2 separate regions of the Homo sapiens genome follow, and region 2 is linked to region 1. Evidence: fine-mapped expression QTL. A gene starts in region 1. The other region holds a variant in brackets. All regions are shown on one strand. Distances are between the middles of the regions. Region 1 holds the start of DNAJA4 (DnaJ heat shock protein family (Hsp40) member A4). Region 2 has its middle 130 kb from the start of TBC1D2B.

Region 1 (11,087 bases):
CATATCACAGTTATTGGCAATGCCAATCTCACCTGTCAACAAATCCCACTGATGCTACCTTCACATTTGCATCTCCAGTACCCTAAGACAGACACAATATCCCATGTGTAGCATTCCTGCCAAAAAGTTACCACTGGAACCCAATTGTACGAAAAGAATCAGAAAACCCAAATTGAGAGATACTCTAAAATTAAAAGATAGAAAAAAACGAATACAATGTGTGATCCTGGATCAGATCCTGCACAGGGGAGAAAAAAAAAAATGGCTACAAAGGACATTATTGGAACAATGGGAGAAATGTGAATCTTTGTTCCCAATGTTAAACTTCTTGAATTTGATAACTTTACTATGGTTATGTACAAGGATGTCCTTGTGCCCAAGAGAAACACGCAGCACTTAGGGCTGAAAGGTTATGCTATAGGTAGCTTCCTCCCAAAATCTTTAGCCAACAGTAATAATAATAATAGATAAAACAAATGTGACAACTTATTTATAACTGGTAAAGCTAGGTGAAGAATACATAGGTGTTCATTGTATCACTCATGTTTTCTGCAGGTATATGGACATTTTTAAAATAAAATCAGAATGCGAAAACATGCAAGATCTGTTCCTTCTTACCACACCACATCCACTCTGGCTGAAGGCACCATCTCAGGCCTGGACCACTGCAGTGGCCTCCTCCGTGGTCTTCCATGTGCCCTCCTCACCCCAGCTTTCAGTGTGTTCTCCACTCGAGCCCACTAATTGGGTCGATCCTCTGCTCAAACCTCTACAAGGTGGCCCACGTCACTGGGAGTAAAAGCCAGTCCTAACTTTCATCTATAAGCCCAACTTGGCACCTGTACTTTCCTCTCCTCCTGTGTGTCCCCACCCCAATTCTATGCCAGTTTCAGCAGGCTCCCTGCTGTTCCTCAACTCTGCAGTCTGGGCCTCAGAGGCACCTCAGCCTGGTGCGGCCTCCCGACTCATCTCTTTCCAGCCTTAGCTCACAGACCACCTTCTCAGGGATGCCTCCTGGTGATCCAGCTTTAACACTGCAAACCCACCTCAGACCCTCCCAGCCCCCACAACTGCTGCATATTTCTCCATATCATGAACCACCTTCTAACAAGCTGCATCATCTACTGCTTATGCTGTAGCCCCCACTGCAACATAAGCTCCATGAAGATGGGGGGTTTTGTCCACTGCTGTCTAACTGAGCCTGGAACCATGCCTGGCATGTAGAAGGCACTTGGTAAATACCTGTTAGATGAATGGCTCGATTCTGGGAACTCAGAAATAAATAAATGAGGTAGGATCTTGGCCCTCCAGAGGCTACAGTTTAGTCGGAGAGACAAATATGGATATATAGATAAACAGATCCTATAATGCAGCTGGCTCCAAAAAATATTCAGGGAAAAAAAGTGCCATGAAATAAGGAATTTGAGAGAGAGAACAAGGGAATTTGAGGCATTAATTCCCTTGTTCTACAGATCCCTGATTGAAATCTAATAAGTAACCAATAATAATAGCTAATAAATAGCTAAAAAACTACAATTTAGAAAAGTCTTAAAAAGACATCAGCATCATATATAAGGCAGCTAGATCTTTTGATATGTTAATTCTCATACCATTTCTGCGAAGAAGTAAGTACCATTCACTACTATCCCTTTCCTCAGCAGAAAACATGAGGTAGAGTGTAAGGATTGGGTGCCTGGTACAGATCAGAAAGCAACTAGGCCAGGCTGCCCCTAGACAGTTTCTGCGTCTATCTGCAGGTCAGGACTAGGTAAATAACTTCATGGGAACGTCCACCGGAAACACTCACCAAATACCCTGGATACTCACATGTCATTTAGACTTAATAGAATGATCTAAGAATGGAAAAGGAGTACCCAGTTGCTTGGGACATTCAGTCAGAGGCCAGATCTCACATGGGATGGGGGTTCCAACTACCAGTAGGGAGTCCATCCTCTAGGGTCCCAGCACTCCAAAGTCTAATTCAGCTCCCGGCCCGGACCCCCTTCTCCCAGTGGGAGACGAGTGCTATGATGAGCTTGCCTTTCAGACCATGATCATTTGCCACAGAACCTTAACAGGATTACTATACAGCTGAGGGGAAAATGGCTTTGAAGACTACGTAACAACTTGGGAAAAGTACTTATAATAAAATATTAAGTGGAAACAAGAAAACAAAATGTCTATGTATCAGGATGGCCATGTATGATCATACTGGGGAAAGCTTGGAAAGAAGCACAGAGTGGTTAGGATAATGTGTACTTGGTAGGTTTCCCTCTGTGTTCTAAAATTTTCTGCATGGTTTGCTATGTTCTGATTTTTGAACTTGAAAGTCTATTATTCAAACTAAAAGTTACAATGAAATTGACCAAAAGACCAAACTCATCTCAACAGGGTAATAGCCAAGAATATACCCCACATCATTGCCCCTAAAAGGGACTATCTTGGTGACCCACTACCTACCACCCATGCATCTTGCAAAAAAAACAAAAAACAAAAAAAAAACACCCGCAGAGAAGTACAGACTCCATACAGAGTGCCCAAAAAACACAAGGTGCCCCAATGCTTAGCAACAGGGGACAACAGGGCAAAAAACAAAGACCAACATTTCAACGGCCTTCTCAGTTTTCCCAGCAAGGGGTAAAGAACTGGTGTAGTCTATTTTTGAAGAGACGTTAATAATACAGTGACGAACTTAGGAGGAAAAAAAAATTTAAAGGTTCTACCTGTGATAAAGTGGAAAAGAACTACACACACATACACACTCACATACACACTCACACACACACTCACACACTCACACACTCACATACACACTCACACACACACTCACATACACACTCACAAAAGGCCTGCACAGTGCACCCAGCACACAGTGGGGACCAGAAGAGGAGGTATTTGTTGAATGAATGAATGAATGAATGAATGAGCTCTCTCTGGGGAACTCTACAGCCGTTTCTATAAATTGTGTCCCCAGTCTCCTCATCCTCTTTGATTTCCGATCTAAATTGCCACTCTCCTCCCAATATCCCTTTCACTGCAATTTCCCTTCCAATTTGTGCCTTTATAGGGCCCTCTCCTCCTACACACAATTTTTTAAAGTGCATTTACTCAGCCAGCTAACAAACATTTTAGCACCTACCCTGCACAGCTAGATACTCACCCCATAAGTGGCCATGGGGGCACAGTCACTGCCCTGCTTACATTATGGCAGGTAATACAGTTATCAAACAAGTAATCACCATTAAAGGAATACAGTTAATCAAACAAGTAATCACCATTAAAGTAGGATGCACGTTGGGCCTGTGGTTCAGTCTATGAGGCAGAGGCAGCCTCCTGGAAGATGTTTTAGCTGAGAACTAAAGAGTTTTATCCCCTTCCATGAAGGTAGAGGAAGGAAAGTATTCCTGGCAATGGGCACATCACAGAACCCTTCCCTCCAAGCTGATGGGCCTGCCAGACCTCACTGCCAAGGGCCTCATTTATGTGACACTAACTCAGTGCCTGGCTATGAATAAATATTAGTTTAAAACAAACCAAACAACCTGCCCAGACAGGTATAGACAGGGTGAAACCTACACATATGTAGTACAGGTCAAGTCTAATTTTTTAAAAATAAAAGCTTCAGAACAAAAGCATATTCAGCTCTAACTGTATACACAGAGGCATGAACTTACTCTTGTGAGTGCTGAGATTTGACCTGAATCCAGGGTCAGGCTTTCCCACATGTCTTTAGCCAGCTTGCTGAAATGTGAAATTAGAAGCCTACAAGCTCTCCTTAAAGGAGACTGTCAGAAGCGGACCACAATGAATGTAGGGAGCAGGTGGATGAATCACCAGCACCATGTAAAACGCCAGTGCCTTTAAAAGCTACAGTAAGCCATCTAAATATAGATGAGAAAGAACGCAAGTGAGTAACAGACAAATGGTCTTACAGGAAAGCATTTTAAACTTGTGACAGCCACATTCAGCACATGTGGCTAAATATAAATATTCCATCACTGTTGCCATTCAGCCAACCGTCCTGAAGTAGCTTTCTCCAGCTTGGAACAACTAACACAGACAGGTATTTTGATTCCAGCGTCGTTTCCACAGGTCTTAAATGCTACATGGGTGATTGGTGTGGTTTCAAACGTGGCCCAAGTGACACTGCTATCAGCTACTATAACGGCCCCACCTCTCAAGACCCATGCGGAACAACCAAAGTTTTGTAAGAAAATGGCAAGAAGTGAAAGGAGGAACGGGAGGGTTAGCAGCCTTTCCTTGCAATGCCTCATCCTTCAATTCACCTATTCAGGTGGGTCATGAGCCTCTTTAGAGATAAAAAGCAAACTTTCTGTAAACAGGATGGAAAAGCTTTTAACTTCTGTCTCTAAAATGCAGAGCATTTTCAGTCTATGATTGGTACTTATGATCAACTGTGTGTCACTTGTCACCGAAAACCCAGAATATGAGTACAAGCTGATGTCAGGTTGCAGATGTCCGTGTCCCTGTTTAATAAAGAAAATGGGATTATTCACTATCTGACGCTTTTATCAGGTAGGCAGTAGGTGCACAGAACAAATCCAGCTAGTCATTCTCAAGAGAGGCACGGCGTTTGTCCAAGGTACCAGCTCAGATTAAAGACACTCATCCCTAGGGTTTATGCATCAACAGAGAATATGAGCCAGTCGTTCCCAGCAAGTAAACAACTGTTTGTGTGTGCCTCAGTTTCCCGATTCCCAGGCCGCCTCTCCCACAGGGAACCAACACACCCTATGAGAACTAGTCCGGCGCGCACGGCAGGGGCTACCCAAACACTTGTGGAGCGAATGGAGGAATGAATGGGCTCGGCAGGGACTCGCGAGGGACCCAAGTGCCGCACCACATGCCTCCTCCGCGGGCGAAGCGCCCTCCACCGACCGCGCCGCACGGCGCCCAGGGTCTCCCGCCACCTCTGCCCGGCCTGGCCCCGAGGCGCCTGGCGACAGCCTCCCCAACAAACGCGGCTCAGGTTTCCCGTCGCCTTCAATGCTCCTGGCTTAATAACCCTTGGCCCCTCGGGAGCCCGGCCCGTGCCCCGCGCCGCCCCGCACCTTCTCGCCCTCATCCGGGTTCTTGTCCGGGTGGTACTTGAGCGCCAGCTTCCGATAGGCCTTCTTGATCTCCTCCGGGGACGCGCTGGGCTTCACGCCCAGGATGTCATAGTACTGGGTCTCCTTCACCATCTTGTGTCTGCGGGGGGGGCGGGCGAGGCCGGTCAGAGCGCCCCGGACGCCCCTGCCGGCACCCTGGCCCGCGCCCCTGGCCCGCGCCCCCGCCGCCCGCTCGCGCGTCACGGTCACGGTCGCCGCCGCCGCCGCCGCTTGTAGCTCCCGCCCGCCCCCCGCCCCGCGCCGGACCGACTTCCACGCCTGGCTCCACCGCACTAGAGCCACCGGCTCCTCCGCGGCGGGTTTTATTCGGCGCCGGCGGAAGCTTCCGCAAGGAGACGGTGACGCCACAAAGGCCTAGAACCTTCGCGGAGGTTCCGGCGGCCCCGCGGCGGGTTCGCGGCCCAGACCCCCGACGCCCGTCCGGCGCGGCCCAGCCGCTCACCTGGGCTTCTCGGGCGTCTGCTCCTTTGGCTGCCCGTCTGATTCCCCGGAGCTCCAGCTCTGACTGCCGCCCCGGGCCATGGCGGGGGCCGGAGAAGGCGGCTTGGGCCTGGAGGGCGCCCTCCGACAACTGTCCCGCCGCCCCGAGGCCGCCCCCTTGCCCTTCCGTGGGTCCGTGGAGCCGGCTGGCTGGAGAGTAGGCGGCCTGGAGGGCTGTGTTGGCCGGAGCCCTGCGCCGAAGGGTGGGACTGGGAGAGCTGCGCCCTGCGGTCCCCACCCGGCCTCTCCCCGGGGGTGTGGCCGCCGTCTGTTCGGTCACAGCCAGGCTGCGGCCTAAGGTGTGCCTGGGATTGTTGCATTTTTTAGGGGGTTGGAGTGGGTAGGGGCCCTCTGCTGCCTCATGACTGCAAGGCTGAGGTGAACCTCTGGCCTTCCAGTTGAGGTACAGGGGTCCTTTGCTGGCCCCAGATGTGGACAGTATCCTCTCGAATGCCCACCACTGGGAACCCTTAAGTCCCTCAAGGTGAGCAGTGACGTCCCCCACATATGGGCAGTGACGCCCCCCAAGTCTGCCAAGGGCCGACAGTGCCCTCTCTTCTCCCAGAAGTGGGAAACTGCCCCCTCTCCTCTGCACATCATCAGTGAGCAAACATCAGGGCCCGACCAGGCTGTTGGGCCCAGTGTTATGCACAGGGGGTCCCATGGCCTGGACCCTGAAACGGCTAGGTGGCCCAGGATGCTTGCCTTGGAAGGGTACAGGAGTAGGTCCCGACTTCCCTAGGCTGCCCCCAGCTCCCAACGGGTGCTCAGGGAGTCCAGATCACAAACCGTTGCAGAAAAGTGGGCGTGGAAAGCAGGCCCCAACGCTATCACAGAATTGCAGGCCCCTGTCCCCTAGCCCTCCCTTGGCTTCTGCCAGGGGAACAGTTTGTCAGAAAGGGGGGTCACTGCTCACCTCCCTGGGATGCCCTGGCCTTGTTTTGGGTACTGTGGCTGAAGCAGGTACTACCTCTCCTCCATGTGTTCCATGGGGGTGAGAAGTGACTTGTACTGTACAAGAGAAATTAAGCTGCTCTTCTTGGAGATGTTGCTTTTTTTTTTTTTAAATTATGCCTTGTAGAGCAGAACCTTTAGGCAGAGAACTCAGAGCTAGAGGTCAGAAACTTTGTTTTCTATCCAGATCTTACTGTCTGAGCCTTAGCATCTCAACACTTTTCTTCGTCAGCAGGACATGGGGATTGCCACTTGCCTGCCTTTCTCACAGGGCTCTTATAAGCATCAAATGGGATGATAACTGTGAAGACTCCTAGCGCAGTGGGTCTCAAACCTGGCTCCTGACAGAGATCACCTGGAATCTTCTAAAAATCCCTCTGGGTTGCACTCCACACCTGTTACCTTAGAGCTTCTAGGGGTGAGGCCCAGGCATCAGTGTTTTTCAAGCTCCCCAGGTGGTACAGCCAGAGCCGAGATCCACTGCCCAGGGTCACATACTTGTCCAGATTTAGTACTCGGGACCATAGGCATTCGTAAAATGGGCATGTGCAGGAGAGGGATGGCTTAAAGACAGAGCCTAGAAACATAGAATGGAGCTATGCACTTTGGACGACAGTGAATTCTGGAACCAGTGAGACTTAGACCTAGGTTCAAATCCCAGCACTGCTACTTCTGGCTGTGGAACCTTGGGCAGACAACTTAACCTTTCTGAGCCTCAGTTTTCTTAACCTTTTAATGAGGATATTAATTATAACTACTTCATAACTTTGTGAAACACCTGGTATATAGTCACAATATTGATGCTTTTTGGGGGTGGGGGGGTGCGGGCAGGGGCTAAGGTATAGAAGCTGATAGTGATTCTCTTCTTGATGGAACTTAGCCAGGCTCCTATGAGCCCTCTTCTCAACTAGGCTTCAGTCTTGGCCTATAAAGACTGAACAGACAGCAACACAGTTTCTAATAATTCAACGTCACATCCTTAAGATCACCAGTTCCCAGGCTTTTTGGCACCAGAGACCAGTTTCATGGAAGACGATTTTGTCACGGACAGGGTGGTGGGGGTGGGCAATAATTCTATGATGAAGGCCTGGCGTGGTGGCTCACACCTGTAATCCCAGCACTTTGGGACGCCGAGGTGGGCAGATCACTTGAGGCCACGAGTTCAAGACCAGTCTGGCCAACTTGGTGAAACTCCATCTCTACTAAAAATACAAAAATTAGCCAGGGATGGTGGTGCTCGCCTGTAATCCCAGCTACTCAGGAGGCTGAGGCACAAGAATCGCTTGAACCCGGGAGGCAGAGGCTGCAGTGAGCTGAGATCACACCACTGCACTCCAGCCTGGGTGACAGAGCAAGACTCTGTCTCAAAAAATAAAAAATAAATAACAATAGGATTGTCTAGTAAAATCAGATATTTTTGGCCAGGTGTGGTGGCTCAGGCCTGTAATCCCAGCACTTTGGGAGGTCGAAGTGGGCAGATCACTTGAGCTCAAGAGTTTGAGACCAGCCTGGCCAACATGGTGAAACCCCGTCTCTACTAAAAATACAAAAATTAGCCAGGTGTGGTGGCACGTGCCTGTAATCCCAGCTACTCAGGAGGCTGAAATAGGAGAATCACTTAAACCCGGGAGGCAGAGGTTGCAGTGAGCTGAGACTGTGCTACTGCATGCCAGCCTGGGCAACAGAGAAAGACTCTATCTCAAAAAAGAAAAAAAAATGGAGGATGAAACTGTTCCACCTTAGATCATCAGGCGTTAGATTCTTATAAGGAGCATGCAACCTAGATCCCCCGCATGCACAGTTCACAGCAGATTTCAAGCTCCTGTGAGAATCTAATGCCACTGCTTGGTTCCTGACAGGCCACAGACCAGTACTGGTCCGCAGCCTAGGAGTTGGGGGCCCCTACCTAAGGTGACCCTGGCCCCACTACCCCCTCTTAAAGTGCCTGCCTGAGAAAACTCAAGGCTGCCAAAATATTTACTGTGTTTTTGTTTCATCCAACACCTGAGGATAGAGCTTCTGTCTCCCAGTCTCTTTGGGAGAACGGCATCCTAACTTTGGCAATTGGCAGCTAGCAGACACAGCTGGCCTAATGTCACTTACACTGACCAACCCTTTGTCATTTTTCACTTCCCTGATTCTGTTAAACTGCTGCTTGTCCTTCTCCCTATTCCCTCATGTTCTTTTCAAAATGCCCAATTACTTTTCGTACAAATCGATATTGAGCTCAGTTCATACTAGATTGTTTTCCCTATTGCAATAGTTATGACTGATTAAATTCTGTCCTTACAATTTTAACTACTGTTCAGCTTTGTTTATCTTAGACAAAGCCTCTGACAATCTAGTAGATTATTTCCCAGAATTATGCTTGGGAGGATTGGAGGCATTACACAGACATTTCTTATTTTGTCAGTTATGTGTTTATTTTCATGATGACCTTTTCATTACTGCAACTTTTATTAAAAGTGACACTGACTTTCCACTCACAGTAAGCAATGTATGGTTTCCTTTTTATATTCTTTTAAAAAAGAGTAGATAAATAGTAAGTGTATGATAGTACCTGTAGTACAAGAATAAAGCAACAGTGGTGATACTTGAATGACAGAAATTTGGGAAATGCTGATCCAGTTCTACCATCTCATTCTACAGTTGGGGAGACTTTTAGACAAAGAAGCCACATTATACAGAACAGCCATTGTCCCTTGATGCAGTGTGGGGCTTCCTTTCTGACCCAGTGTAGAAGGAGAGTCAAAGCAAGCACGGAAGTAGGTTTTACCCAAGGAATGCTGGGATGGGGTCTTCAAGGAGTCTTCTGAGAGGGAGAAGCCACACCTACCTGGGGAGGGGGGTCAGGAAGGACTTCATGGACGAGGGACATGTGCCATAGACCAGGAAGTTAGAGCTCCCTTTAGCAGCAGGGAAAGGGAGGGCAGCCATGCTGAACGGACAGCAGGATAAAGGCAGAGAGCACAGATGGATGAAGGCTCTGAATTGGAAGGGAAGCAGGGACAGGTGTGCTAGAGCCTTGAATGCCTTGAGGAGCAGTTTGCTGCTCTCCTGGGCCCTGGGGAGCCATTGAAGGTTTCAGAGCAGGACCTGCGTTCTGAGAGGTGTAACTAGCAGCAGACCCCGGGGGCTGGGTGGATCTGGACCTCCTGGGAGAGGCCCAAGCTGGGCATGCCGGTTTGTAGAGGCAAGCCCAGAGAGAGGGCATAGAAGGAGAAAGAGAGCTCCAAGGAAAAGCGTTGGGGAGCGCCTGTCTTTAGGAAGTGGAAGGAGCAACAGCCATCGGAGAAGCAAGAGGAGAACCCAGAAAGCAGAGAGGACCAAAATCATGCAAGGCCAGAGCAGCGAGGGGTAGAGGAGACAGTGCCTGGGTGGCAGAGAGGCTGGGAATGGGGGGGACCAGTACTTCAAGGGGAGGACATTAATTTATTGGCCCCCGAAACAGCAGTTGTCATTTCAGGCCATTGTTTTAATATTGGGAGGGATTTCCACTTGGAGAGGCCTTGCCCCTCACTGGCTGTGTGACCCTGGGCAAATTAGCTTTCTCTGAACATCCATTTCCTCCTTTGCAAAATGGGGATAAGAACATCTGCTTCACAGAATTATTGTACAGATGAATGGAGACAATGTGTAAAGGGCTTACCATGTGCAGAAAGCACGTGTTCTCACGATGAAATTTATTGATTTCATCACAACAGGATTTGTGCACAGCAGCTATGTGTCTGGCTCTGTGCTGGGAACCAACAATACAGCACTAGATTAAGGTTATGCCTGTCCTCGAGGAGCTCAGAGACTAGCTGCACCTCAACATCTGACTCCAACCACTTTGGGTGACCCCTAGCACGGGCTGATTTTGCTAGCATTCCAACCCATAGAATTTTCTAAGAACTCACACTGAAGTAGTTAACCGTTGCCACCTTGCTTGAACAATAAAACCTGAGCCCCTGGCTACATTCCTGTGGGTTAGGGCCTGGTCTCTGAGAAGTCACTTCTTCCTGGAACTTGGCCTTTACCCAGAGTTGCTGTCACCAGAGGTTGGGGCTGCCTCTGTTTGGGGAGAAAAAAACTAAGAAAGTGAGGGAGTGGTCATCCTGCCACATATTTGGGCTTTAGAGACAAAATTCTGAGGTTTTCTCATCAGGGCACCCATCTTTTGAGGTCCCAGAGTCCAGAGAGAAGACATCCCTCCATCCTTCCAACAGATATGTAAAGTGCCTTTTGTGTCCAGTGTTGCAAGAGGCTTTGGAGCACACCGGGGAACAGATCCTGTCTCCCCCACACAGAGGACAAGAAAAAATCTAGAAATAAAGCTCTAACTGTAGGAGCAAAGGAAAAGTGTCCTTTTGAATTCTGGGTGGTCAGAAGGAGGAGATGACCTTCGCATGAATCCTGGAGGTTGAGAAGGAGCCAGGCGTGCAGGACTCGGGTTAGGGAGTTCTAGGCACAGGCAACAGCACGTGTGAAGGCCGCAAGGTGTGAAGAACCAGAAAGGAACCAGTGTTTCTGGAACAGTGA
Region 2 (11,087 bases), 320 kb after region 1:
GGTGTGCTGGGCCTCGGCCTTAGAAGCCAGAAGCCAGTTCATGCCCCTACTTGGTCTACGTGGGAAAGGGATGTGGCCTCGGCTAGCTCTAGGGTCCTGGGTTATGGAAAGGGCCCTTCCTTATGGACCCAGTGACTTAGGCTGACCCAGCCCCTCCCTGAGCCTCATCAGTGAAACCAGGGCTGGGCCAGGGCTCTCAACACCTCCCAGCTCCAACCTCTGGCTTTGTCCCAGGAGGGCAGGAGATCAGACAGAGGTGACCCGGGCTCCCTATTTACCTCAACCTCCTTGTGAAGCCTCCCTCTTTCTGCCTGTGAGGTGGGTGGGGCTGGAAAGAGGGGCATTCACCTGTGGGTCTCTGACTTCTCTGCCCAGGTGTGCCTGGGGAGTCTGGTCTATACCCGGTGCTCTGCTATACCCCACAGCCTGGTCACAACCTCCCTGCCTCCAGAGCAGCCCTGGCCCAGGGAAGAAGCGGGTCTCTGCATCCAATGATAGGTAGAAAATGAACGTGGGGATGATAGCACTGGAAAGGAGTCAAGGAGGAGGTGCCTTCCCAAGGATGTGGAGGGTTTTTCCAGAATGGAACTTGACTGGGGTGGGCAAACATCAGGAGGTGGGAAGGGTGGCTCCCTCTGTGGGAGCTGGGGCAACTTGCCTGGGCCAAATGGTGGTAGGCTGTGGGTGTAGGGTGGGCAGAGCTGGGGTGCCCAGAGCCTGGGGTCCCTGTCCTTGCAGAGGACTGGAATGCAAAACAAGTGCCCCCTGCCTTCTGGCTGCGGGACATCCTCTGCTTCCAAGCCCAGACATACACCTGCTGCCACAAGCCCCTGAGGCTCTTCAGAGGACCAATGGGCAGCCACACCCATGCTGGGCCAGCCTGCTGGGCCCACCTGCACCCTGGTCAGAGCCCATGACTGAGGGGACTCTCTGGGGGCAATGGGGGCAGTCCCATGCTGCCCTCTTACAGGTGGATCAGTCCCTGGGATCTGGTGCTGGGCTGGGGTGGGCTGAGGCTGTTCTCTGCTGGGGTACCTGGTGGACAGCAGGTGGAGCAACTTCTCCTTGGCTTTCCTGGACCCCAGGACACAGCTGAACACTGCACTCTACCCTGGATGCCTTCAGATGGGACCATGGGAAGGAAGAGGGGCTACCCCTGCAGGGGGCCAGGACCCTGGCCCATGCTTGCTCCCCGCAGCAGGCACCTCCTCTCCAGATTGACATCACCTGATTCCTGAAGGCCTGGGCTACTGGCCAGAGTCCCAACATCCTCACCAAGGTCTGTTTTTACATCAGAGCAGCTAGTACATGAGTTCGGAGCTGAAGGGGGCGGAGAGAGAACACAGGGCTCTGTTAAGAGTTCTTGGCTCCCTGCTGTGGTGGGCCCCGTAGAAGGCCCCCCAAAAATTTGCAGCTGCTATAAGTCACTGGGAGGAAGCTGCAGCAGACACGTGTTTCTCAGCCTGGTAGATGCAGAGGGGTGTCCGGACCCCCAACTGGGAGGCCCAAATGTGGCAGTGCAGGAATTCTAGCCAGCTCTGGGACCCTGGGCAAGTCATGTAACCTCTCAGAACCCCATTCCTGGTCACCATGGGGCTCTTGTGTGGATGTAAACAACCCTCAGGCCACTTATGTCCCATCAGTGGAAGCCTAGCATGGGTGGAGACCCCCGAGACTGAACTCAGTGGCGGGATCCAGCCTTCCCAGCTCTTCTACATAGAGCCCAGAGCTAGCAGGGTGGGCTGCCTGGAGAAGCAGGCACTCCTGTGGGCTGGAGAACATGAGCAGTGGTCCCTTTGGGAAGGTGGAAGAGGCTGTGGTCAGTGGAGGCCATAATGGGGCAGAGGTTGGGCAGAAGGGGCATGATCGGGGGATCTGAGACCCAATAGAGACTGGACTGAGGACTCTGTGCCACTCAGGCAGTGGAAACTGAGCTATGGCTGGGACCCATGGTCCTGAGTGAGGCCTGGCCAGTCTTGGAAGCTGTGCCAAAGGTGGCTTCATGTAAGGGTGCATCTGAGCACTTTTTTTTTTTTTTTTGAGATGGGGTCTTGCTCTGTCATCCAGGCTGGAATGCAGTGGCACGATCATAGCTTACTGCTGCCTCAAACTCCTGGGCTCAAGTGATTCTCCCACCTCAGCCTCCCAAAGCGCTCAAATTATAGGCCTGAGCTACAGAGCTGGGTTTTAAATCTTAATATCTCCTCCTGGTCTGCTTCCCTGGCTGACACACATGCTGGCATCTTGCGCCTAGACAAACATGTTTCTGGACTTGGTTCCATTTGTTCTGACGGGCTTCTCTCTCTCAATGACCGCACGTTACATTATTTGGCTATTCTTACACATTTCCGTATAGAACTGAGGGTTAGTGTATTAATGTCAAAGTTCTACTGGTTTTTCGAGGCTGGGTGGAATGTTTGGGTTAATTTAGTTGTGGGCATCTTGACAATATAGGCTTTTCCTCCAGGAATGGTGATTCTGGGACGCAGGTTTTGCACATTCTGGTTTATTGCTTGGCTCGCTGCCACAGAGGGATGGCACTGCTCCACACACCATGCCCTAGAGATGTCCCACCTTATCTGTCTAAATCAAGCTGGATGTTCTCAGCTGACAGGATATCATATCAGTGCTGTGGGGACTCACTCCCCTCAACCCGAGACGAAGTGAGGTGGAGACTATGGAGCAGATCCGTGCCGACTGCATTTGCCCTTCCTGACCCGCACTGCTGCTGGGTGGGGCTGTGTCTGAGCTGATAGAGGGCATTGATTTGGGCATGGGGAGGGGTCAGTACTGGAGAGATGCCCCTCACCTCCCTTAGCTCCTCCTGTCCACTCAACACTTGGTCACCAAGGCCCCTGACTTCCAGGCCTCAGTCACCACTAACGAGGTGCTGCATGGGAACAAAGCGTAGGCCCACAACCTGGAGTTCAGGTCACTCCTCCTTCCAGTTGAAGCCTCTATCCCTCCCAGGTGATTCCAGCCTCATTTCTCCATGGGCCAAATATCCTAAACAAAGGCCTGGACAGGGGGTCTTTATCCGAGTGCCCAAAAAGCACATGCAGAAAGGCTCTGCATGCCCCCTGTGGCCTGTCAGAGGTAAGAGCCTGCCCGTCAAAATGCACAATCCTGGTTCTTGCAGGGAGGTGAGGAGGGGAGGAAGAAAAGGTCCATCTCATTCCTTCAGCAGGAACCCAAACTTGGGAAAGCCAGACACAGTACATTTCTTAATGATCCTGACACTTTTATAACTGGTTACAGCTGGGTCACATGCACAACTGTTTTCCAACATCTTTCAATGGGCCACATAATACCTTGTAATTTTTTATTTTTATTTTTTAAGGCTGGGGGAGTGGCTCACACCTGTAATCTCAACATTTTCAGAGGCGGAGGGAGGAAGACTGCTTGAGGTTAGGAGTTTGAGACCAGCCTGGGCAACACAGCAAGACCCCATATGCAACAGAGAAAAACGCTGTCTCAAAAAAATTTTTTTTGAGTACAGTGGCATGATCACAGCTCACTGTAGCCTCCAGCTCCCGGGCTCAAGCGATACTCCCACCTTAGCAGCTGGGACTCTCAGAGCGCAGCACCACATCTGGTTAATTTTTTTATTTTTGGTAGAGATGCAGTCTATGTTTCCCACGCTGGTCTTGAACGCCTGGCCTCAAGAGATATTCCCAATGCGACCTCACAATGCACTGGGGTTGCAGGCATGAGCCACCATGCAGCCCCTGCAAAATCTAACTGTCCTTCAGGTGCTCCTTTTGGACCTCCTAGCTAGACTGCCATTGGCAAATGCCAGTTGATTATCCACCCACATGTATGTTAATGGATTTCCCATGTTTTATTTGTCTAGACCAGGCTTTCTCCACAGCAGCACTGTTGATGTTTAGGGCTGGACAGTTCTCTGTTCTGGAGCTGTTTGCGCCTCGCAGGATGTTTAGCAGCATCCCCAGCCTCCGCCTGCCACATGCCAGCAGCACTCCTCAGTGTGACAGCCAAAGTGATTTCAGATACTGTCAAATATCCCCAGGGCGGCAAAATCACCTCCAGTTGAGAACTGCTGACCTAAAACCCTCTGGAACAATGTTAGATCATGGTAATGATAGCGCATACTGCTCCTGACCTTAATGGGAATACCTCTAGCATCAAAGTATAGTAGTACCTGTATACTACTGTCTGGGCTGTTATTAGTACACTGTATTAGTCCATTCTCATGCTGCTATGAAGAAATACCCAAGACTGGGTAGTTTATAAAGAAAAGAGGTTTAAATTGACTCACAGTTCTGCATGGCCGGGGAGGCCTCAGGAAACTTACAATTATGGCAGAAGACACCTCTTCCCAGGGCAGCAGGAGAGAGAAGGAGAGCCGAGCAAAGGGGAAAGCCTATAATAAAACCAACAGATCTCGTGAGAACTCACTCACTATCACGAGAACAGCACGGGAGAAACTGCCCCCATGATTCAATTATCTCCACCTGGTCCCACCCTTGACACGTGGGGATTATTGCAATTCAAGGTGAGGTTTGGATGGGGACACAGAGCCAAACAATATCATATCCTTTATATTAGCATACTGTATCGAAGTATAATTTTCTTTCTTTTATTTTATTTTTTCTTTGAGACAGAGTCTCGCTCTGGCTCTGGCTGGAGTGCAGTGACACGATCTCAGCTCATGGCAACCTCTGCCTCACAGGTTCAATCAATTTTTGTGCCTCCACCTCTCAAGTAGCTGGAACTACAGGTGTGTGCCACCACACCCAGCTAATTTTGATTTTTTTTTTTTGAGTACATATGGGGTTCAACATGTTGGCCAGGCTGGTGTCAAATGCCTGGCCTCAAGTGATCCCATCAATACGACTTCCCGAAGTGCTGGGATTCCAGGCGTGAGCCACTGCATCCAGCCTGAAGTATAATTTTCACAATGTGAAAAGCTTGACTTTCATACAGATAATGAAGGAATATGTATAAGATATTTTCTTTAATTTACAAGGGAGTCAGCAACACGGTGAAGCTAGTTAGAGGAGCGTTTTGAGAGACAGTGTCTGTAGTGCTCCAGGAAGGGCATTCTGAAATGCATTCTGAGATAGAGACAAAACTTGTTAATATCCTATAGGCAGGCTGGGCATGGTGGCTCACACCTGTAATCCCAGCACTTTGGGAGGCCGAGGTGGGTGGATCACCTGAGGTCAGGAGTTCAAGACCAGCCTGGCCAACATGGTGAAACCCCGTCTCTACTAAAAATACAAAAATTAGCGAGGTGCGGTGCTGGGCGCTTGTAGTCCCAGCTACTTGGGAGGCTGAGGCAGGAGAATCACTTGAACCCGGGAGGTGGAGGCTGCAGTGAGCCGAGATCATGCCACTGCACTCTAGCCTGGGCGACAGAGCAAGATTCTGACTTAAAAAAAAATCATATTGGGAAATAAAAATGTCATCTTTGGGAGTTATCTTTTCTACTGGACAGAATTCTGTAAGTTAACATATATACATATTCTCCAGTATATTCACAACATATTCTGTAGTATATTTCCCTACACTACTGCTTTTCAAAGCATGGTCTCAAATTGGAAGCATCAGCGTCACCTGGGAACATAGACATGCAGTGCTTAGGCCCCCCCTCAGTCCTACTGAGTTAGAAACTCTGGTGTGAGGCCCAGCAGCC[G/A]GTTTCACAAGCCCTGCAGGGGATGATGATGCACTCTAATGTGTGAGGACCACTGCTCTAAATAGTCAATCTTTAATAGTAAAACAAGTATCTATGAAACAATGCTCCAGTATGACATTAAAAGGGCACACCATCCACCTTTTAACTTTATTTCTCAATTTAGATATTTTGTCTGATGTTAAATTTGCTGTTTTGTTTCTCAAATACTCTTAAGACAGTTTTCATCTGTTCCTAATTTTCTCTTTTTAAATAAAAAATGGTTTTCCAAATCTGTCCATTTTACTCTTCTTTAACCTATTGATAGGATGAAGTAAAAGTTACCTTTTTTTTTTTTGAGACGGAGTCTCACCCTGTTGCTCAAGCTGACTGAAATGCAGCGGTGCAATCTCGGCTCACTGCAGCCTCCATCTCCCGGGTTCAAGCGATTCTCGTGCCTCAGCCTCCCGAGTAGCTGGGATTACAGGCACCCGCCACCACGCCCAATTCATTTGTTTTTTTTTTTTTTAGTAGAGACAGGTTTTGCCATGTTGGCCAGGCTGGTCTCCAACTCCTGACCTCAAGTGATCTGCCTGCCTCAGCCTCCCAAAGTGCTAGGATTACAGGCATGAGCCACTGCGCCCAGCCATTTTTTTTTCTTTTTTCTGAGACGGTCTCCTTCTGTTGCTCAGGCTGGATGGAGTATAGTGGCGACATCATGGCTCACTGCAGCCTCCACCTCCCATGCTCAAGAGATCCTCCCACCTCAGCCTCTTAGGTAGCTGCGACGACACGTGTGCACCAGCAGAAGCAGCTAATTTTTTGTAGAGACCGGGGTCTCCCTATGTTGCCCAAGCTGGTCTAGAACTCGTGGGCTCAAGCGACCCACCGGCCTTAGCCTCCCAAAGTGTTATGATTACAGGTCTTATGTCCTTAAAGTTTTTCTTTGACATGGTATAGGATAGTCTAGTAACTTAACATACTGTGGTTTTCAACAGGCTAGTGCTTATGACTTGTAAAAGAACTCTTCAGAAATGAGCTCAATTTTACCATGAATTGGGACACTTTCCATTTCTTTCTATTCTATAGAGCAGTTTACTTGCCATGAGCTGTCTTTTGAAAACTTGAAAGCCTGCAGCAATAAAACCAGCTGCACCTGGTGCATGGGATAGGCATGGAATTGAGGAGAGAGTTCAAACTACGGTCAGCCCTCTGCATCCTCGGGTTCAAGATCCTTGGATTTAACCAACTGTGCATCAAAAATATTTGGAAAAAGTAAAACAATAAAAAGCAAAAAGTTATAAATACTTTATAACAGGTACTTACAAAGCACTTACATTGTATTAGGTATTATAGTAATCTAGAGATGATTTAAAATATACGGAAGGATGTGCATAGGTTATATGCAAATACTATGCCATATTATATCAGGGCCTTGAGCATCAGTGAATTTTGGTATCTCTGGGGTCCCGGAACCAATATCCTGAAGTTACTAAGGGATGACTGTCTTCAGTTTCTTCTTTGGTTATTAGTTTATTCTCTGATGTATTTTTGTTGTTGTTTTGTCTTTTTGTTTTTGCCTCTGCAAGTCAATGTCGGAAACTTAGTTGTTCCAGGCTACCATTAGCTCAGAGCTACCAGTAAGCAGACTACCACTGCAACCTAAGCAACCGATTTTTTCCCCCATCAGACTGGCAAAAATTAAGCATCTGTTGATGTTGAAGCTGTAGGGAGTTTTCCTGAGCATGTTAATTATGACAGCCCTTTTTGTTAGGCACCTAGACGATTCATCAAAATGAAATAAAATACCCATGCGCTTGAAGAAGTTATCTGGTTATTTCCTTATCTGGGTGCTGGTTATGTGAGGTGTACAGTTGATGAAAACTTATTAAGCTTTATATTTCTAATAGGTACAATTTTCTGTATGTGTAGTAGACTTCAATAGTTTTTAAAATGTCTTTTGCCACAGTCCGCAGCTGTGTATAATGCTATTCGCTTAACAGTGGAAAACATGACAATGACCTGAATCCCCCTGGCTCCCGGGATCCTACCCCCTTAAGTTAAACAAATGAAATAACTTCCACTGTCTTTCCTAATGCCTTAATTCGGTCCTCAGTTAAACTGACGGTGGATGCTGTTTTTTTCCAGGGAAGGATTCTGGGAGACGGAGGAGGAGACGCCAGCATTTCGCCCCCGGCACCTCCAGCGGGCTGCGGTCCGCTCCCGGCCTCACTCGAGCAGGCCCCGCCCTCCCAGAGGCCGTTAGTCCAAGTCAAGTGATCGTCGACTCAGTTGACCCTGTCGGACCGGAAAAAGAAATTCCCGGGCCCTGGCTTCCTGGTGCGATGATGAGGCACCAGGGGTGAAGCGAGGCATGGGCTGCTGGAGCGGGAATGAGGGGGCGCCAGTGGCTCCGGAAACGGGTGGAGGTTGTCTGCCCTGGCCTCTCCGCAAACAGTGTGTGCGGGCGTGAGAAAAGTCCACCGCTACTCCGCTCCCGAGACAGGGGCGGGGGTACGGGGCGGGTAAGACAGCGCAGGCCGGCCGGCTTAGAGTCCCCGTGCTTCCCTGGGGAAAGGAAGGGCCCCTGCCTCCCGGGGCAGGAACTAGGGCTTGTCTGGAGCTGGGAGTCCTTTCGGGTCTTCCCCAGCCACAAGAGGACCTCCCAAGGACACTCCCTTCCCCAGCCCTGCTGTGGGACTTAGACAAGAACGCGCTTAGAATTAGGATCACACTTCCACACTGTTAGGCAGCCCCTCCGCTGTTTCCAGAGTCAGAAAGTAGTAGTTTTGGGGTTGAGACTTATCCATCCATCCATCCAGTCCATCCATCCCTACGTTCTAAGCGCCTAGTCTATACCATGAAGTGTGCTAGGCACTGGGAGGACCTGAGCTGCTGAGGGAAGGGGAAATCGGAGCCTTGAATTGGAGTCATAGTCAAGGCTCCAGGGGCAGAGACCTAACTGCGCCTTGTGTGTAGTGCTAAGGGGGCTTCCTGAGGATGCCTTCAACCTTAAAGGCGGATGGATGGCAGGAGCTGGCTGGCTGAAGTACAGTTTGTGTACCAGGGGTTGGGAGGCAAGGGTGGGAGGCGTGTGTCTTCAGACAGGGAACAGCATGTGCAGAGACTTCAGGTTAGAGAGAGCATGACTCCCCAGGAATGAATGCATTTCCCATAGCTGAGAGAGTATTATCTGCAGGTTAGGGAAGGATGAGGCTGGACAAGTAAAGACCAAATCTTCCTGACTGTTGGATCACCACAATCAAGATAATGAAATATCCACCGGCCCCCAAAATTTCCTTGTGTGAGGGGCTATTTTAGGAAGTATCATCAAGAAGGGCGGGCCTGGCTGGGTACAGTGGCTCACGCCTGTAATCCCAGCACTTTGAGGGGCCGAAGTGTGCAGATGACCTGAGGTCAGGAGTTCAAGACCAGCATGGCCAACGTGGTGAAACCCTGTCTCTACTAAAAATACAAAAAAGCCGGGTGTGGTGGCACATGCCTGTAGTCTCAGCTACTTGGGAGGCTGAGGCAGGAGAACTGCTTGAAGCTGGGAGGCGGAGGTTGCAGTGAGCCAAGATTGTGGATTGTGCCATTGCACTCCAGCCTGGGCAACAGAGCGAGACTCCATCTTTAAAAAAAAAAAAAAAAAAGAGGGGCTGGTCTGATGAGGTGTCACTTGAGCAGAGAGTGGAATGAAATAAAGGATAGCAAGCCACGTAGAGAGTGCAGCAGGCATGGAGGCGGGAGCAAGGCTGGTGTCCCGGAGCAGCAGCAGGGAAGCCGGAGTGGCTGGACTTGTGTGGGTATGGGGAAGAGGGGAGAGAGGTCACTCATCTGTGTGAGGCACAGGACTTTGTTTTATCTCCTGCTGTACCCCCAGCTCTTAGAGTGGGAGCTAGCACAAAGAAAGGTGCTCAATTGATGTTTGCTGAGCAGATGAATGCCTGGAGTAGACCAAAGAGCAGGGTTTGGTGGCAGGGTGGGTCAGGGAGAGAGTTTACTCAATAGCCTGGTGATAGGGGAGAACAAATGGCCAGAGGGTGTCCATCTATGATGGGGACCAGGGGTCCTTGCTGGGCAGCAGTGTGGGAGACACACAGATCCTGGCCACACCTCAGCCTTCCCTCCAGCCTGATTACCTGACTCCCTCCCTTGCAGAGGTTCTGGTTCTGTGGTGATCTGGACTGTCCCGACTGGGTGCTGGCAGAGATCAGCACGCTGGCCAAGATGGTTGAGTGCACAGGGTGTAGTCTGAGTGGAGGAGGGGTGTTGGGGGTGGGGATTGTGGGTGTAGATGATGATGAGGTTTCTCTGGGGTTAGGGCCTCAGTGCTCTCAGCCTGTGCTACCATGCTTTGTGACCTTGATCAGTGGCTGGCCTGCTCTGAGCCAGTCCCCAGGAAGGAGGGGTGAGGTTTGCCAGCCTGGCTGATGTAAGGACTTCCCTTCCAGTCCTCTGTGAAGTTGCGGCTGCTCTGCAGCCAGGTACTAAAGGAGCTGCTGGGACAGGGGATTGATGTGAGTACAAGATCCAGCACCCCATTGTCCCATGCCCTTATGACCCCTCCTGCCCTGAAACTGCACTAGGCCCAGGGAGACGGGTGACCCGGCCTTGCAACCTCTCTGGGCACCTCCCATACTTCTTTCCAGCCTGTCTGTTCCTTATTGCAGGATCCAGGCTGTAGGTGAGGGGCTGGTGAGCAGGGGCCTGGCACCGCCTGAAGGTCTCCTTTCCCCATAGTATAAGAAGATCCTGAAACTCACGGCTGATGCCAAGTTTGGTGAGCACCCCACTGAGTTCACAGGCCCCAGGCAACCCTGGGACCTCGGCCTGGTGCCTGGTACAGAGCCCGCCCCCACCCCCCACCCCCCGCCAACACACACATCCCAGCAGTATCCTTAACCTGCCTTCCCTAGTGGAGGAGCATGAGGGAAAGAAAGACATTGACAGTCCCACCTTCCTGTCCTCTGCCAGCTCCTGGTGGAGCAGTAGCAGTGCCTGTGGCTCCAGGAGGCCTGGGGGCTTTGAGCTGAAGTTAATAGGGCAACAGGGGGGTGGCTGGGCCCACAGTGACACCCCCTGTCCCATGCATGGGTCCCTGAGAGTCAGGCGATGTGAAGGCCACAGTGGCAGTGCTGAGTTTCATGCTCTCCGGAACTGCCAAGCACAGTGTCGATGGCGAATCCTTGGCCAGTGAACTGCAGCAGCTGGGGCTGCCCAAAGGTACGGGTTGTGGGTGGGCAGCTGGGCAGCCTGTGGGCCAAGGGCTGCTAGAGAGGGGACAGGCCCTGTGACCCTGAGGTGTACCCTGCCCTGTCTGGGCCAGGAGCCCAAGCCAGGCCCCCACCTGCTACCTCCAGAGCTTCTCCATTCTACCCCCAGAGCACGCGGCCAGCCTGTGCCGCTGTTATGAGGAGAAGCAAAGCCCCTTGCAGAAGCACTTGCGGGT

Evidence for each region. PIP is the estimated chance that this variant, and not a neighbour inherited with it, causes the effect.
Region 2: its variant is the best candidate, but not a certain one, in a credible set for the expression of DNAJA4 in whole blood (TOPMed, PIP 0.68).

The regions. Positions count from the first base shown.
Region 1 is chr15:78,258,881-78,269,967 of GRCh38, reverse strand. DNAJA4 (DnaJ heat shock protein family (Hsp40) member A4) reads right to left here and starts at 5,406. Exons shown (of 7, transcript NM_001130182.2): 1 at 5,073-5,406. The coding sequence starts at 5,204. DNAJA4-DT (DNAJA4 divergent transcript) reads left to right here and starts at 5,824. Exons shown (of 4, transcript XR_001751621.1): 1 at 5,824-5,911; 2 at 6,011-6,096. RefSeq lists silencers at 4,873-5,162, 5,473-5,552.
Region 2 is chr15:77,941,456-77,952,542 of GRCh38, reverse strand. It overlaps the pseudogene COMMD4P1. Among named protein-coding and RNA genes, the nearest start is that of TBC1D2B, 130 kb to the left of the region's middle. RefSeq lists enhancers at 394-894, 7,822-8,116. The variant G/A (reference allele first, on the strand shown) is at 5,660.